Linked DNA regions of Homo sapiens. The protein of the gene in region 2 purifies or fractionates together with the protein of the main gene of each other region. This does not show direct contact. Each region holds a gene or a part of one and is shown on either strand. Other genes may lie near its edges.

What was found.
Region 1: the proteins of IFTAP (region 2) and LANCL1 purify together in Homo sapiens (affinity purification with mass spectrometry; one large-scale study listed by BioGRID and IntAct). This does not show direct contact.
Region 3: the proteins of IFTAP (region 2) and GNPAT purify together in Homo sapiens (affinity purification with mass spectrometry; one large-scale study listed by BioGRID and IntAct). This does not show direct contact.
Region 4: the proteins of IFTAP (region 2) and RO60 purify together in Homo sapiens (affinity purification with mass spectrometry; one large-scale study listed by BioGRID and IntAct). This does not show direct contact.

What each region holds. Positions count from the first base shown.
Region 1 is NC_000002.12:210,452,459-210,457,088, reverse strand, and holds part of LANCL1 (glutathione S-transferase LANCL1), read left to right. Parts: intron 1-1,774; coding exon 1,775-1,982; intron 1,983-4,630. UniProt on the Homo sapiens protein: Functions as a glutathione transferase. Catalyzes conjugation of the glutathione (GSH) to artificial substrates 1-chloro-2,4-dinitrobenzene (CDNB) and p-nitrophenyl acetate.
Region 2 is NC_000011.10:36,656,113-36,660,378, forward strand, and holds the end of IFTAP (intraflagellar transport-associated protein), read left to right. Parts: intron 1-2,906; coding exon 2,907-3,074; 3' UTR 3,075-3,160; downstream 3,161-4,266. UniProt on the Homo sapiens protein: Seems to play a role in ciliary BBSome localization, maybe through interaction with IFT-A complex.
Region 3 is NC_000001.11:231,265,212-231,269,841, forward strand, and holds part of GNPAT (dihydroxyacetone phosphate acyltransferase), read left to right. Parts: intron 1-81; coding exon 82-209; intron 210-500; coding exon 501-576; intron 577-802; coding exon 803-954; intron 955-1,065; coding exon 1,066-1,196; intron 1,197-2,468; coding exon 2,469-2,692; intron 2,693-4,630. UniProt on the Homo sapiens protein: Dihydroxyacetonephosphate acyltransferase catalyzing the first step in the biosynthesis of plasmalogens, a subset of phospholipids that differ from other glycerolipids by having an alkyl chain attached through a vinyl ether linkage at the sn-1 position of the glycerol backbone, and which unique physical properties have an impact on various aspects of cell signaling and membrane biology.
Region 4 is NC_000001.11:193,072,299-193,076,928, forward strand, and holds part of RO60 (RNA-binding protein RO60), read left to right. Parts: intron 1-3,521; coding exon 3,522-3,742; intron 3,743-4,202; coding exon 4,203-4,349; intron 4,350-4,614; coding exon 4,615-4,630. UniProt on the Homo sapiens protein: RNA-binding protein that binds to misfolded non-coding RNAs, pre-5S rRNA, and several small cytoplasmic RNA molecules known as Y RNAs.

The DNA.
Region 1 (4,630 bases), on a different chromosome or scaffold from region 2:
AGGCCCAAATGAGAGGTAGGGGAGAACTGGAACATGAGATTGTGGAATCCCAGAAACTAGAAAGATAATTCTCTGCCTATCAAAAAGAAAGTTTTAATCCAAATGTACTCTTGTGAGACTTGAGAAATGATTACCTGTTTTTCATGAGAAATACACCAAATCTTACAATTGCAAGCCTTAATAGGTTTTGTTTGTTAAATAGTTAAGCCAAGAGGAATTGTTGCTAATGAGAGACAAAGATCTGAAAGAAAAACAATCACTGGGCTTGTGTTTAATCACTTTTTATTTTCTCAGATCTCCATCATGTCATTATCTGGCTTTGGTGCTTACATAACTTAACTAGGAGAGTTCAGGCAGCAATGGGAATAGGAGGGCAAAATGAAAGGTTAACAATTTAAATGGATCACCTGCAGATGCGTGATATGGATGGAGATGAAGCCTATTAAGGACCTAATTTTAGAAGAAGCTCTTGACATCAATCATTTGTGAAAAGGGTTTTTTTTTTTTTCTTACCTACACACAAGGTTTTGTACACTTGTCTACAAACCTTAAGCATTGATGCATCTGATCATCAGCTTGTGGGATTACTAACACCAAGCCACTTTGAAAGAGCAGTCAAGGTTATTAACTTTGGCAGGAAATGAAAATTTGGCCTTAATATACATGTGAAATTGAATTGTCTGTAGCACAAAGCTTTGGAGATTACCCATGCAAAATGAGAAAACTATCTAAATTTAAAATTGTCCTCAGTACAGGGAAAGTAATTTTGCAGACAGCATTTTTACTGCATTGAAATCCGTGAAGATTGGCTCTATTAATTTAAATTTAAACAGAGGTTCTGTGTCTTCTAAAAATCGCAAATGAGATGGAAAATGTACTTCAAGGGAAAAAATGGGTTTCTGGATATGCTGCAGGCAGGCAGGCAGGCTTCCTACTCCACATCTTTGAGTCTGCCCTGAGACCAGTTAGCTTCAGAGGGAAGGCTCTTTCCACTGTGACAGGCATTTGAAATAAGGACATGCAGACAATGCCTCTATTACATATTTCAGGCTTCAAGAGTAGGGTAAGAAACTGATCAAGTAGAGCCCAAGGCAAAAGTCATTGGTGGCTTTTACATTACATTTACCAAAGTAGGTGGGCCCTCGACAGAAAAAAATCTAGGGGTTGAATATTTTTTCTCAGCTATCAAATAACTTTCTTATAATCCCTGCCTGGAAGGATACTGGGGCAGGGGATTTGGTTACATTAACTACCTTTTCACAAAAAAAAAAAAAAAAACACACACACACACAAAACAAACTTTTACGTAAAGAGAAATTGAAATTTTCATTCCCTGGTCTTTGAATTTCTTTAGTTCACAACAAACCCTTTCTTATTAAATAATTATTGGTAAATCAATTACATTTATTTGGAACCCTAGTTTAATGACACATCATTTCGACATCAAGAAGAATACATTAACACAATAACCAGAGTACAACAAAGACTAATAATAGGCTGTGTGTCTCTTTATTGGCCAGAGCCTTAGAGACCTTATTATTTAATAGAGTTGTCATAATGAGGAAACTGAGGACAAGTAAGTGGTTGGCTTATGCTGGTTCGTAGAGTTGCTTACTAATAGAGCTGAGCCTAGAATTAAAGTCACCCAAACTTCCAGATCATTAATAAATTTGCTACAGGTTATCAAAAATCGCTGCTGAGTAGACACCATGCCAAAAATAATAAAATAACTGCCTTTCCTCATCTTTACATTGTTTCCTTTTTTTTTTTTCAGGTATTGCTGTGCTTTACTTACATCTTTATGATGTATTTGGGGACCCTGCCTACCTACAGTTAGCACATGGCTATGTAAAGCAAAGTCTGAACTGCTTAACCAAGCGCTCCATCACCTTCCTTTGTGGGGATGCAGGCCCCCTGGCAGTGGCCGCTGTGCTATATCACAAGATGAACAATGAGAAGCAGGCAGAAGATTGCATCACACGGTAATCATGTTTCTATATGAGGATTATTTTCTAGCATCATTATGCATTAATTCTGCATGTGTTAACAAAAGAACATTCTAGTGAGTTTACTTTTCTCTTAGCAGATAAATCTCACTGCTGTCATTTGATCAATTGTCATATTCCTGTGTTGTAGTTAAGGAACAACGATTATAATCCCTATTTTAGTGCAAGATAAAAGACACTGTCATGTTCCAGATTAAACATCAGTTCAATAATGTAAATGAGATCGAAAGCCTTAACATATGATTACTAATCCAAAGTGCTATCCAAGATCTGTAATTCAAGGAAATGCAGTTCAGTTCCTACAGGTGGGCTGGGAGAGTCCTTCTAAGGGACCACAGACTGATTCAAAACGGCCTTTCTTAGAGGCAATGACATGCACATCCTGATTTTCATTTTGGTATAAATTATGGTGGTCCACTAGAAGCTGGTGAATTATGAAGAATTATTAAATGTTTGTACTAATAGACTTTAATTGTTGCCTTACCAGAGTTTATTAAGCACTCTTTCGGAGTTCTAAGAACCCTGGCTGCCGTGCAACTCTGCATGCATCGCTCTTAGGCTCCACTGCGCGTGCTAACACTCCAGCAACGTTTTAACCAGTGACTGTCCCTGAGTTGACCATGGTGTTTGATTCCCACTATTCTTTCTTATAGATTACTGTTAGGATGGCATTACCATCACCAATTTAGTTTGTCTAGGATCCGTTGGCTAATCTTATACTGTTTGCTGGTGTATATTTAAACAACAGGCTTTTTGGACTTTTTAAGATATCATAGTGCTGTATTCAAAAAAGGAATGATTTATACCCCTATTGTTTAGGCGTGTGTGTGTGTGTGTGTGTGTGTGTGTGTGTGTGTGTGTGTATGTATGCATATCTCCCTTCTCTCCCAATTTTTTCCCATGCAGTGATATTTTCTTATTGTAACTAACTTTTTCCACTGGAAAGTGTAACAAAAAGAAGGGGTGGGAGTCTTGCTCCACCCAAAATGATTTGGGAATCATTATATTGGATCATTTTCTGAATTGACGTATTCTTCAAAACACCTTTTTTTAAATACATGCCTATGCTACATTTCTTAGGGGCTAGACATTACATAGTATAACTTTAAAAACACATTACTTAGTGTGTCTAGAGGAAAAAAACTGAACATTCCACTCCAGAGCTGAGAAGCTTTTAATATAAAACCTGTCACCAAGCTCGACCAAAATGAAAGATGAAACAAAACAGTGATTTCCCCCAAAGTTTAAAGTGTGTTCCTTCCATAGTAGCTGACTTGCATAAGACTTGCCAATACAAAAACTGTTCCATACTCACCTAAATTTGAAACACAGAGACTACCTTTTAATTTTTTTTACATAGCTGATGTTTAAAGCCATCAGCCAACAACTGCTTTAGAGGTCCACAAGATACTCTCATTCAGTGAATCACTTGTTAAGTACCATCAGATAAATTGTAGTGCTCCCAATATTCTATATATAATGCCAGCCTTTCCATAATACATGCAGCCACATTTTAATAGTTTGCTATGTGAGAAATGTTAATGTGTTCAATGAGACCAAGATTCATAGATTCAAACAGATGGGAATTTGTATCAAAGCACTAATTAAACAAAATTAAATATGTGTCTTTACCGGCTGCTTAGCTTCTTCTGTAGCTTGTATACCTGGGGACAACACGCCAACTCTAGGGAGCAGCACTTGCCAATGTTAACTCACCTATACAACCCTCTTCTTCATGAAATCTTGAGGGCCTATTCTAACACACTCTTTGGGAAATGGTACAATATCAATATTAGTGTATTAAAATGCTCCTAAGAGTATGCTAAGATTTTTGTTGTTTTTGGTATATTGGTACTAAGGGTGTTGTTGTCATTTACCTTTTTAAATTTTGACATTTCGACAGTATTTATAGCCAGTAGGCTTGTTAAGGTTAAAAATATAGTATGTGAATATAATAGGAAAATACACTATTTGTGGCTATAGCTTTGATTTTTTTCAGATTTTTTATTTTATACAAAACAGAAAAAGAATGACTTGGAATGATTTGTAAGTTACGGAGTTTGCTTTATCTTTTCAAAGGAAAAATCTAGAAATTTGACTTAATTTCAAGAAATCCAAAATTATTTAATATAAGTTATTTAGTAAACCTCCTTTAACTTTTTACTAAACCTTTTTTCTCATTTTACAGACCTTTTGAGATCCCACGCTCACATTCTCTGTGTACTGCCTTTGTTGTGCTTCATTGCCAACATCATGTTCTAGCTAGCTTGCTTTTTCTACATTTTCTTAATGTAATGTTCTTTCAAAAGCATAATTTTTAAGTTTTAGAGACCAGACAGTCCTTTGAGATCATCAAAAGTCTAATCCTTACAGAAATTGAAATCCAAGGAAATCAGTGTTTCCCTATAGTACATATTCTTAACCTTGGGCCAGAATCTTAGGGTTTCTGGCAGTGTATAAAACCCCCAAATTATATTCAAGGAGGGAGCATTTGTGCTTTTCTTAAAGGGATCTATAACTCCCCAAAAGGAGGGTGTGTGTGTGTATGTTCATGTTCAAATTGTCCTACAAATGGCTGGGGAGTGGAGGGGAGGACAATACATTGCATTAATTTGTTCTACTGC
Region 2 (4,266 bases):
GCCGTATCTATAACCAACTTGGCCGTGGGAGCCCTGATCAGAGTTTAGAAGTAAGTCCGAAATACAGGCCTTACTTTATCTGGGTTGCTAGGATGAGGTAGGTAATAAGTGAAGTGATGTGTGGGGAGGCTAGTAGGATTTTCTGGAGACTGGCAAAACTCAATCAAGAGTAAGAGGCCAGGTACAGTGGCTCATGCCTGTAATCCCAGCACTCTGGGAGGCTGCAGTGGGTGGATCACTTGAGGCCAGGAGTTTGAAACCAGCCTGGCCGACATGGCGAAACCCTATCTCTACTAAAAATACAAAAATTAGCCAGGCCTGGTGGTATGCACCAGTTGTCCCAGCTACTCAGGAGGCTGAGGCAGGAGAATTGCTTGAACCTGGGAGGCGGAGGTTGCAGTGAGCTGAGATCATGCCACTGCACTCCTGCCTGGGTGACAGAGGGAGTCTCTGTTTAAAAAAAAAAATAGAAGAGTAAGTGAAGCTTCTGCACTTTCCTCTCTATGCTTCTGTTTCCCTTTTTTGCATTCCTCTATTGGAGAGCAAAGCACGTGATACTGAAATCATTCCTATACTTTTGTCTTCTCCTTGAAGTTATGAAACCTTGTAGACACAGATTTTGCTATAATCACTTTATGTTCCCAGAATCTGCTATATAATAAATGTTTATTGAGTGAACAAGTAAAGGTAAGGGAGGTGGGGATTGAGGTTATTTGTGTTCTGTAGAGGGAGTCGGGGGCATGGTATGGTGTCACTGAGATTTTAACACAGCAAACGGATTTGTCTAATTTGAAATTGTATTCTAACCCCTAAGTGAGAGGTGGGTGAAGACAAAGTGACTGCATCTAGTGAGGATGGCTAGTAAGGTGTAGGCAGGTTTTAGAGGCTTGAAGGTAGAATTTAAAGACCTAGTATAGGGGACACATGCAGGTATAGGCAGCTTGAAGCTTAATAGACATGTGATGAAAGGCCTTTACCCAGGCATGAAAGGGCAGCAAAATTCCCATCAGACTGAATATATTGGTGGAAACAGGTTCTCCTCCTTATGTTTTGCCAGGATCAGCTAGAATCGGCTCCAGATGGTGTTGTAGCCAAGCCTGCAGGCCTCAGTACTTACTGCTGAGTAGAGCTGGAGACAGCAAGAACAGTTAACATTCAGGAAATGAACATCTTGTGTCATTGTGTGTGTGTGTTTCTGCATTTGAGCCATCTAAGCAAGATTGTCCCACTGTCACTTTGGCTGTGTTGATGATAAATTTGATCTCAGACAGTGATCAAAATGGACTGATCAGCCTTGCAGGCTGATTTGCTTTTTGTGTACAGCTGGGTTTTAAGATAGTCATGGTATTACATGTAGCCTTGAGTACAGTTTTCTAATGGTAGGCTGTGAGAATGGATCATCTTATTTAGAAAAGGTCTTCTCTCCAAAGGCTGTGACTTGGCTTAGTGGAAACTTCAAGGTTGATTCTTGCTGGTGTTTCTGTTGAGCAGGTGAGGCTTTATTTGAAGCAGATTACCCTGGATCCAAATATTGCTTCTCTCCCTTACTAACTGTGTATTTTGGGCAAGTTACTTAACCTTTCAGAGCTTTATAAGGTAGGGGTAACAGTGACTACCAGCAGGGTTGCTTGAATATCACTGCTGATGCCACGTGGTTCCTAGTATCAGGGCTGACACATGGTGGAAACTCACCGTGGCAAACTCACCATGGAAACCCAGTGGCAGTTTTGTCAGGAAAGCACTAAGGTCCTTTCTGATAAACAGGAAATGAACGCATCTCCAGAAGTTGTTCTCCTGCTGATTTTACTAACAAAAGATGATAAATGGCTGAGCGTTTGCTATTAGCACTGCACACCTAACTTCAAAACATAACTTGTGGAACAGATAGGAGATAACTACTCATTATTTTTTCTTTCACCTTTAGTAACAGCAGATAGTTTCTGAGCTACATGCTACATTTTTACGAACATTGCATAAGCCACTCAATGAGATCATCTTCCATGCAAGAATATTTAAAGCTGATTATAGCTTCGGGACATTTTTTCATTCTTGCATAAACCATAGTTTTCAATTATTTCAGCATCACTATGCATATTGTGGAGCTACATAGAAGTACTGGATGATTTCATTGTATCACACACCATTTGTTTTTGGAGAGGCTTTTTAGGGGGCGATACAAGAGATTTAAGGCATACTCTTGGTTTATTGGAAAATATGCTTTTTTATCTGCCTTCCTTTAGGAAGTCTTTAAAACTCACAAATTATGAATAGATTCAAAATTATTACATCTCTTTGTAACTACTTTACTTATAGATAAACTGTAATATTTTTAAATTCTTGGTAGAAACAAAGAGATCCTGGACTTTTAAATTTAAAATATGTTTCAAGTTTTACTGTTATTAGCCAAGAGTTATAGGTATTATCTGAAGAAGTATATTCAATGTAGGGTATTTTTATCTTTAAAAAGTAAGTTTTATTAATATAGATCTTTTTTAGCAAATGGTGAAAATCTATTTAAGGTTGATAAAAAAATCTTAGTGTATATTTTTCTCACATTTTAATATAACTGTTGGTTTTTCTGTATGCTTCTGTAGTCCTGACACTACAAGTGGTAAAATGTATAATGAGTATATGCAAGGGAGACTTTCTGATTCTTGCCTTGGGCAGCATTAGTTAATGATATTCATTCAGATAGAGCATGGTACAAATGGAGCATATTAAGAGGCTTAAATTAGGTCAAATTGAATAATTAAATTTATTTCTTTACTTAAAAACAGCTTAATCAGCTGAGAGTGCTGAAGTCTGAAAAAAGGTTTAATTAAATATTAATAGGGAGTTAATTTTTCAACTTTATCTTCATTTACAATGATTGTGTATGTTTTTTCCTCCTTTGTTACCTTTTATAGATACTTGGAGATGAAGTTCAACTTTTTTCACTTGATGAAGAATTTGATTATGACAATGTGATGCTAACCTCCAAGTTTAGTCCTGCAGAGATAGAGAACATCAAAGAGCTATGCAAGCAGCAGAAGAGAAAGGACACCAGCCCAGACTTAGAGAAATCCTGTGACTGATTCACAGAGGCATTTTGTGTGTGTGTGCTTATTTTAATTTTGTTCTTATTCTAGCAACATTAGAATAAAAGATAAACCTACTATAATTCCCTTTGTGGAAATTTACATGTGTGCACTCATTTATCAGAGTTACCTGTTATTAGGGATATAGAGCAACAAGGCCAAGGAGATTGCCGCCCTTACAGAATTCTCTCTCGCCATGTCATTGTTGCATCTTGTGGCTGGTTGGAGGAGATGGGAGTGGGAAATGGGAACAGGAATCAGCATCTATGGAAAGATCCATTTTGATGAAAGCATTGCACTAAGTGATGTGGGGTGCTGTATCAAAGGTCAGAAACATGATCCCACTTTCTTGAGAGTAAAGAACAATTGCAGATGAAAACACATTGTAGCATATTAGAGAAAAATTGCCAATATGAGTAGGTCTGGGTCCTAGCTGTCCAGAGATAGTGCTATCAATGTGAGTGTTGTTGAGAGATTAGGCTTCTGGAATTGATTGGGAAAGGCTTTACTTAAAAAAGTCATCTGAGAATTGATGATATGTCACATATTAAATTCTTGCATTTCATTATTACCATTAAACCATGTGTGATAACGGTTACAAAATACAAGGAAGATCTCTATCTCCAGAAGCTTAAAATACAACTTGAGAAGGCAAAACAACTAGAGAATATAAAAACACATGATGAAGCGCTAATTATGTAGCATACCCATACATGCATTAAGGCAAGGAGAAAAGAGGGATGAAGGCCCAGAGGAAGGGGGAGTAATATGTTTCAATGAATTTTTATTATTGAAGGAATTACTAACAAATTGAATGTACTTAACTGATTTTCTTTTCTCTTTCTTTTAAGCACACTTTGTTTTTCAGAGCAGTTTTATGTTCACAGAAAAATTGAGGAAGACAGCATCGTTTTCATGCACCCCCTGCGTCTCCCCAACTTAGACTTCCTTACTATCAATATCCCACACCAGAGTTGTTTTTTTTGTTGTTTTATTTTTTGCGATTAGTTTTCTTTTTGTGTGTGTGTGTGTGTGTGTGGTAAGAACTTCACATGAGCTCTACTCTCTTCAATGTTTAAGTGTACAATACAGTCTTGTTACCTATATGCACAGTGTTGTGCAGCAGATCTCTGGAATGTATTCATGTATAACTGAAACTATACCCACGGAACAGCAACTCTCCATTTCC
Region 3 (4,630 bases), on a different chromosome or scaffold from region 2:
ATGAAAAATAAGCATGTTTAAGTTTAGATCTTTATAGAAGATTTCAAGATCTGCAAATAAATATTATCCCCTCTTTTTTAGACTTCCTGGGAATGAAAATGGTTGGTGAGCTGCTACGAATGTCGGGTGCCTTTTTCATGCGGCGTACCTTTGGTGGCAATAAACTCTACTGGGCTGTATTCTCTGAATATGTAAAAACTATGTTACGGGTAAATGCAAATAATTCCCAACTACTCTTAAGCCATATTTTCTTCACTGATGTTTGCTCATTTAAACTCTTAACTTCTGAATAGAACACTTAGCTATTTTGCTTTCCCTCAAGAACTGCTTATAACCTCAGCAATTGGTTTAATCTGTGTGACTCTCTTGTTTAATTTTCACTGTAAGCTGTGTTTGTTCAGGAAGCTTGGGAGGGAGCTTGGGAAAAGGAATCAAAAGAAGCATTTATCATTTTGAGAGTAGGCAATGGGTTTTGTGTTTTGTTTGTTTTCTCTTTAAAGAATGGTTATGCTCCTGTTGAATTTTTCCTCGAAGGGACAAGAAGCCGCTCTGCCAAGACATTGACTCCTAAATTTGGTAGGTCACTACAGATTAAAAGGAAAAATACAAACCCAAAGACATCAGCTGCTACATAAAACTTGACGCTTTATTTAACAAGATATTCTTTTCAAGTGTAAATGTATAACTGTTGATATTTACGGGATTAGTGTATAATGTATGCTTTTAGTATTTTCCGTTTATGTGCTCATGTTTGCTCTGCTCTTCAATATGTTGATGAAGCATTTCTCCCTGTGTTTTGCAGGTCTTCTGAATATTGTGATGGAGCCATTTTTTAAAAGAGAAGTTTTTGATACCTACCTTGTCCCAATTAGTATCAGTTATGATAAGATCTTGGAAGAAACTCTTTATGTGTATGAGCTTCTAGGGGTTCCTAAACCAAAAGAGTCTACAACTGTACGTGAGCTTGATTTTAGCTTAATTGAGAGAATGTGCTGACTGACACATCAACTAATTTCTAAATTTACTGCTTTTCGTTTTCTTCCCCCCCTGTTATGGTACTATTAGGGGTTGCTGAAAGCCAGAAAGATTCTCTCTGAAAATTTTGGAAGCATCCATGTGTACTTTGGAGATCCTGTGTCACTTCGATCTTTGGCAGCTGGGAGGATGAGTCGGAGCTCATATAACTTGGTTCCAAGGTGTGACCTGTGTTTTAATAACTGTCTTAGAAATGAGGATTAAAATCCAAAGGTGTGAGTTGCAATGCTGGAGTTGACCACTTCTCTTGATTTACTTAAGATTACAGAGAAAATGATCAGAAATGCTGTTATCATTCCGTTTTCATCAGTGGAAACCTTCAATTAAAGAAGAATTATGTGTTTGTCCCAAAAAAAGATAAGCTGTGAGATATGTATGTCAAATATGCAAAATCAGACAATGATCATGTTTCTCAAGGGAACTAAAGTGGGAATAAATAATGCCATTATTAACAAGTATATGTGCAGGAATTGTTGAGCACTATTGGTAAGCTAGCCAAAGTATGTACTATTATTTTTGACCCTAGAAAGGATTGCATAATGGTAATGAATGGGAGTGAGTCCTTAGTCTCTAGAGAGTTATAGTTTTATAGGCAAGAAAATATATTAGGTTCTTTCAGGATAAAGAACACAGATACACATTTGAGTTTTCTTAATTAGGAGAAATATACCTGGACAAGTAAGGGAGACAAACCATCTGCCCCTCCAGGCCTCATGTGCTGCAACATCATTTGTAACTTATCTGTAGCTTTAGCAGTTTCCCAGCAGCTACATTAGTCATCACAGACGCTTATGTTAGTTTTTTTCCTGACACAGGCTCTCTCTTTAGATCTCAAATTGGTTTGGCTGGCTATTACCTAGTACAGGGCACCCTTACTGGCTGCATCTTTCACATTAAGCCACCTGTGTGGCAATTTTTAGGTCATGTGTGTATCTCTGCTCCAGCCAGCTCTGTGCAGGCCTTATTGTACTATTCAAAGTTTGGTAATCCATGCATGAAGTCAGACAAACTGAATGGCACCCATTCAGTATAAAATAGTTATTATATAATCTGTTAAGTGTGTTCTACAATGGAGATATGTTCAGCGTGCTATGCATTCTGAAAAGATAGTAATTTAGTCTACTGGGGCAGGCATCCATTCTCAGAGAAACGATGTATCCTATTTAGGAAGCAACAAAAGTTTTTTGCCTGGAACCAGGAATAATAGGACCCTGGACCCCTTCAGTATTTTTACCATCTCTCAAGAGGATATTCCAGAAATGTATGGTCAGATTACACTATAGTAAAGCAAAGGAATACTGTTTGCACCTGACCTGAGAGAATTCAGTTGGCACAAAGTATGAGAAGCCTTCTAAAACGTCTAGAGTCTTTTTCCATCCCCATTTGTCTAAGTAACAGAACTGTAATTTGTTGCTCTGTGCTCTTCCTTTTAGATACATTCCTCAGAAACAGTCTGAGGACATGCATGCCTTTGTCACTGAAGTTGCCTACAAAATGGAGCTTCTGCAAATTGAAAACATGGTTTTGAGCCCCTGGACCCTAATAGTTGCTGTTCTGCTTCAGAACCGGCCATCCATGGACTTTGATGCTCTGGTGGAAAAGACTTTATGGCTAAAAGGCTTAACCCAGGCATTTGGAGGGTTTCTCATTTGGCCTGGTATGTAGGTAGGACATATGTGTTGAGAATGCTTGCTTAATTTGGAAGAGTTAAAACCTGGACCTGAAAAATCTATAGAGGACTTGAGCAAAGGATTGCTCAGAAAGAGAAAGGACAGGCCGGGCGCGGTGGTTCACACCTGTAATCCCAGCACTTTGGGAGGCCAAGGCAGGTGGATCACGAGGTCAGGAGATTGAGACCATCCTGGCTAACGCGGTGAAACCCCGTCTCTACTAAAAAATAGAAAAAATTAACCAGGCGTGGTGGTAGGCGCCTGTAGTCCCAGCTACTCGGGAGGCTGAGGCAGGAGAATGGCATGAACCCAGGAGGCGGAGCTTGCAGTGAGCCGAGATTGTGCCACTGCACTCCAGCTAGGCAACAGAGCGAGACTCTGTCTCAAAAAAGAAAGAAAAAGAGAAAGGACACCAAATCTGTTTTTATCACTATAGGACACAGTGAACACAGCACGTTGATTATTTGAGAATAATTGTTTACATGTCATTTCCCACTACGAGACTCTGAATATCTTGAGGACTAGAATACCATTTCCTTGGCACCTAGTACGGTGGAAAATAAAGTCATGAATCCTAGCCAGGCATGGTGGTACACACCTATAATCCCAGCTACTTGGGAGGCTGAGGTGGGAGGATCACTTGAGCCCAGGAGTTCGAGACCAGCCTCAGTAACATAGTGAGACCCCATCTCCAAAAAAAAAAAAAAAAGGCCGGGCGTGGTGGCTCACACCTGTAATCCCAGCACTTTGGGAGGCTGAGGCGGGCGGATCACGAGGTCAGCAGTTCCAGACCAGCCTGACCAACATGGTGAAACTCCGTCTCTACTAAAAACACAAAAATTAGCCGGGCATGGTGGCGTGCACCTGTAATCCCAGCTACTCGGGAGGCTGAGGCAGGAAAATTGCTTGAACCTGGGAGGCAGAGATTGCAGTGAGCCAAGATTGCGCCACTGCACTCCAGCCTGGGTGATAGAGCGAGATTCCGTCTCAAAAAAAAAAAAAAATTGTACAGGCTACAGTTGGAAATGCGTTTTTTTTTAAAGACCAGATAATTATTTGAAGTCAAGTACCTACTGTTCTTTGATCAACCCAATACTGAATACCTCCTCTGTGCTGGGTACTACCAGGGATATGAAGATGAACAAGATGCCATCCCCATCCTGGACGTTCCCCTGGGTTGCAGAGGGCAGGGTGGGTGGGTAATGTGTAAACAAGTTGTGAGGGTTCAGTGAACAGAGACAAGGAGCAACATGCATGCTGCAGAGGGTTCCTGAGAGTGCTGCAGAGGAAAGGGACCATACTCAGGAAGACTTCACAGAAGCGACTTTTGAACCCTTCAGGAAGACCAGGAGAGGATCCTCGCCAAGGCAGGGATGAGGAATGCAAGATGGGAGGCTTGGGCCCCAGAGATTCATCAGTGATATTAAAGTGTTGGCCCAGATGGGGTGGTGGGTAGATGGAAAATAAAGATGGACCTCCCCGCCTCCTCCCCACCATCCACCATCAGAAGACTGGAGGTATAGAAACAAGTTAGGAGGCTGCTCTGTCCCAATGAGAAATGCAGGATGCCTGAGATGCCTGAGCCGCAGCAGTGGAGGCACTCAGGGCACAGCCAAGAGATGAGGAGGATTTACTGACAAAAATGCCAGTCACCAAGAGAGAGACAAATCAGACACCTGTTCTCAGTGCTGTGATGGGCTGGGTCTGGTAGGAGGCAAAGGATGTGTTAATTATGATACAAGTAGCAAGTGTTGGATGTCATGAGAAATAGCTAAAAGGGCTCAAACCCATCATTGTTTGGCCCAGGAACATATGAAAACATAGGTACTTGTTTTTCTAAAGTGTTTTGCTTTTTCAGGATGGGATAAATGCCATAACTAATCCATAACTAAGAGTATCTGTTCAGTGTCACTACAGTTCTGTTC
Region 4 (4,630 bases), on a different chromosome or scaffold from region 2:
TGGCCCTCAGCAAATATTTATTGAGCACCTACTATGGATAGAAACTGTTCTAAGAACTTGGGGTTCATATTAGAGGAGTTGATAATGTATTATTTATATACAGTGCATGCATTTTTTCTTCTTTTTTTTCTTTGTCTTTTTTTTTTTTGGTTGGGGGACATTTCTGGCACACTAAAGTTTTGAATTTTAATGTAGTCAAATTTATCCATGTCTTCATAGGTTTATGTTTTGTGTTAGGATTAGAAGGGCCTTTTCCAACCTAAAATATTTATCTGTGGTTTTTTCCTAACATTTTCTTGGTTAAGAAACATTATTTTTTACATTTAAATTTTTTATCCAAATATTTGATCCAACATAAGAAGGACTTAGGCATCCAGCTTTATTTATTGGTTTGTTGAGATGTGTCTTGGAAGTGTGGAGCAAGTACTAGACTAAGAGAAAGACCGCCCATTACTAGTTCTAACTGGACCAATTAGTTTCTGAACTTGTGAAAATAATTATTCTGTGCTTTGTCTTTTTGGTCTATATAATGAGGAATTAGTAGATGTTTCCTAAACTTACTTCCACACATAGGATTCTTTAATTTGAAATTGTTGAGGGCAGAACTCACAGTTGAAACCATGTTAGTAATAGCAATATCACATTGGACAGAGAATCCCTAGCATTTCAAAGCTTAAAAATTTGGAAAAACTCTAAGCTACAGAATTAATAGTATTTTAATGCCTTTAAGTGTAATGTGTATTTATAACAGACAAAACAAGTCAAAATGTGATTCAAGTCATCAGGTATGGTATTTTTATTGTGCACCCACTGCATGGCCAGCGCAATTACAGAACCGGGTAGGATAAAACTGCTTTAAGGAATTTTTATTTTCACTGGAAAAACAAAATAGAAGATATACTCACAGGAAACATTTACTCATTTAAGATGATTTTGCACCAAAATCTGGAAGATAGCAAGAGTCACAATACTTGAGAAGTTCCTGCATGTTAGTGTTAACTTTTGATCAAGTTATTTAGCATTCAAAAATAACATAATAGGCTCAGTTGGCATAGAGATGTGTTTCATGTGGCCTATACAATATTTTTGGGTAAAAATGAATTCTTTGTCATTATCTTTAAAAATCGACATAAAAACCCATATTCTGGCTTCTCTTGAAAGTAAGTTTTTTTTCTTTTGGCAGCACTAAGTCAATACGTGTCTACACCACTTGTCAGGGCACACTCTGTTCAGTCACCACACCCTAACAACTCTCTATTACATCACTGTGTTTGTTTGTTTGTTTGTTTGTTTGAGACAGAGTCTCACTCTGTTGGCCAGGCTGGAGCACAGTGGCACGATCTTGGCCCACTGTAACCTCTGCCTCCTCAGTTCAAGTGATTCTCCTGCCTCAGCCTCCTGAGTAGCTGGTATTACAGGCATGTGCCACCACGCCCAGCTAATTTTTTTTTATTATACTTTAAGTTCTAGGGTACATGTGCACAACGTGCAGGTTTGTTACATATGTATACATGTGCCATGTTGGTGTGCTGCACCCATTAACTCGTCATTTAACGTTACGTATATCTCCTAATGCTATCCCTCCCCCCTCCCCCCACCCCACAACAGGCCCTGGTGTGTGATGTTCCCCTTCCTGTGTCCATGTGTTCTCATTGTTCAATTCCCACCTATGAGTGAGAACATGCAGTGTTTCGTTTTTTGTCCTTGCGATAGTTTGCTGAGAATGATGGTTTCCAGCTTCATCCATGTCCCTACAAAGGACATGAACTCATCCTTTTTATGGCTGCATAGTATTCCATGGTGTATATGTGCCACATTTTCTTAATCCAGTCTATCATTGCTGGACATTTGGGCTGGTTCCAAGTCTTTGCTATTGTGAATAGTGCCGCAATAAACATACGTGTGCATGTGTCTTTATAGCAGCATGATTTATAATCCTTTGGGTATATACCCCGTAATGGGATTGCTTGGTCAAATGGTATTTCTAGTTCTAGATCCCTGAGGAATCGCCACACTGACTTCCACAATGGTTGAACTAGTTTACAGTCCCACCAACAGTGTAAAAGTGTTCCTGTTTCTCCACATCCTCTCCAGCACCTGTTGTTTCCTGACTTTTTAATGATCGTCATTCTAACTGATGTGAGATGGTATCTCATTGTGGTTTTGAATTGCATTTCTCTGATGGCCAGTGATGATGAGCATGTTTTCATATGTCTTTTGGCTGCATAAATGTCTTCTTTTGAGAAGTGTCTGTTCATATCCTTCGCCCACTTTTTGATGGGGTTGTTTTTTTCTTGTAAATTTGTTTGAGTTCTTTGTAGATTCTGGATATTAGCCCCTTGTCAGATGAGTAGATTGCAAAAATTTTCTCCCATTCTGTAGGTTGCCTGTTCACTCTGATGGTAGTTTCTTTTGCTGTGCAGAAGCTCTTTAGTTGAATTAGATACCATTTGTGAATTTTGGCTTTTGTTGCCATTGCTTTTGGTGTTTTAGACATGAAGTCCTTGCCCACGCCTATGTCCTGAATGGTATTGCCTAGGTTTTCTTCTAGGGCTTTTATGGTTTTAGGTGTAACATGTAAGTCTTTAATCCATCTTGAATTAATTTTTGTATAAGGTGTAAGGAAGGGATCCAGTTTCAGCTTTCGAGATGGAGTTTTGCCACGTTGGGCACACTGTTCTCAAACCCCTGACCTCAGGTGATCCACACTCCTTGGCCTCCCAAAGTGCTAGCATTACAGGCATGAGCCATGGTGCCTGGCCTCACCGTGGTGGTTTTATTTATTTTATTTGCTTGTCCCTCATAGACATTTTAATGTTGTAATCCAATCCCTGCTGTTTTACAGAAGTGGTGAAACTAAGACCTAGAAAGACCACCATTTATTGGCAGAGTATAGGCTAGAACCCAGACTTTCTCACCCCCAATCCAAGGCTCTTTTCTCTTTCTTCTATTGGAAGAAATTGTGGAGGAAATCAACAAGTTACTGTTTCCTTTTTTTTTTTTTTTTGAGCAGTAATACTTCTCAGCTATTAAAACATAGTGTAAAAGAAGCTACCCTGTCCACTTCTACTTATTTCTGCTGTTTTTGTAAATATATATATTTTATTCAACAGCAAAAAGAGACAAGTGAATATAATTAATATAATATAATACATTACAATACAATACAATATTAATTGAGATAGATCTGTACTCTCGTGAGTTGTTCTGAGATTATGGACCTGAAACTTTCTAATGCTGGTGTCTTTAAAAAGAAAAGAAAGAAAAGCCTCTGTAACAAAATACTCAGGATACAGGTTTTTTTACTCTAAAGTCTCATATTTAAATAGTAATGATGGAATAAGAAAATTAATTCACCCCATTTGCTTAATTGTTATATCATGGAAAGCAGCATCCCAGTGTAAGGGCATTAACTCTTGTGTATCCAGTTATGTTGATCATATAATGCATTTTGAGGAAACATGTTCTGTTTTTTTACTTGGTAATCCTGCATGCTTTTTCAATTCTTTATCTTGTTAAAGGACTTGCAATTGTGACCAAATATATTACAAAGGGCTGGAAAGAAGTTCATGAATTGTATAAAGAAAAAGCACTCTCTGTGGAGACTGAAAAATTATTAAAGTATCTGGAGGCTGTAGAGAAAGTGAAGCGCACAAGAGATGAGCTAGAAGTCATTCATCTAATAGAAGAACATAGATTAGTTAGAGAACATCTTTTAACAAATCACTTAAAGTCTAAAGAGGTGAGTGAATTATATGTTACAGCATGTGATTAAACATGAGTAATTTAGTGTAGGTGCTAAAAGGATAAACTTGGGGTAGCTATATATTTATACTTTTAAAAAGAAATTATTTAAAATATATCTTGAAATTGATGTCTGTTTAAAACACCTACCATGATGTCCAACATGATGTAGGTGGCATTTGTGTTAGTTTCACTCCAGAAAATCTACTGCCTTGCTAATTAAAAAAAAAATCATCTATGCATTTCCTTCATAAAATATACTTCACATCCTTTTTCTAGTAAAAAACAAGTTAGCTTATTTGATAAGCCTTTTACTTAGACATTTTTCATTCTGAAAGTACTTTGAACCCCAAATGAAAGCCTCAGAGACTGTATTATGAATATTTTTTTATATAGGTATGTTATACTGATTTATTTTCCCTTAATTCCTGGTATTTCTGCCTATGTTATTGCAATAGGTATGGAAGGCTTTGTTACAAGAAATGCCGCTTACTGCATTACTAAGGAATCTAGGAAAGATGACTGCTAATTCAGTACTTGAACCAGGAAATTCAGAAGTATCTTTAGTATGTGAAAAACTGTGTAATGAAAAACTATTAAAAAAGGTAAGCATTATCATTGTTCTTTATTAGCTACTACTAACTGAGAAAGTGGCTCCTAAATTTTAGAAATGCCGTCAGTGCATTTTTAAGGTATTTCGAGATGTTCATTATACCAAATTGCATTATGGCTCTTAAGTGTAAGTTTAATACATTTTCATTTTTCTCTTTTCTATATGAAATGTAGTTATTAGCTACAATAACACAAAAATCTAAGGAGTATACATAATCACTGTTTTTTGCTAAAATTTTCCTTATACTTTGTTTCTAGGCTCGTATACATCCAT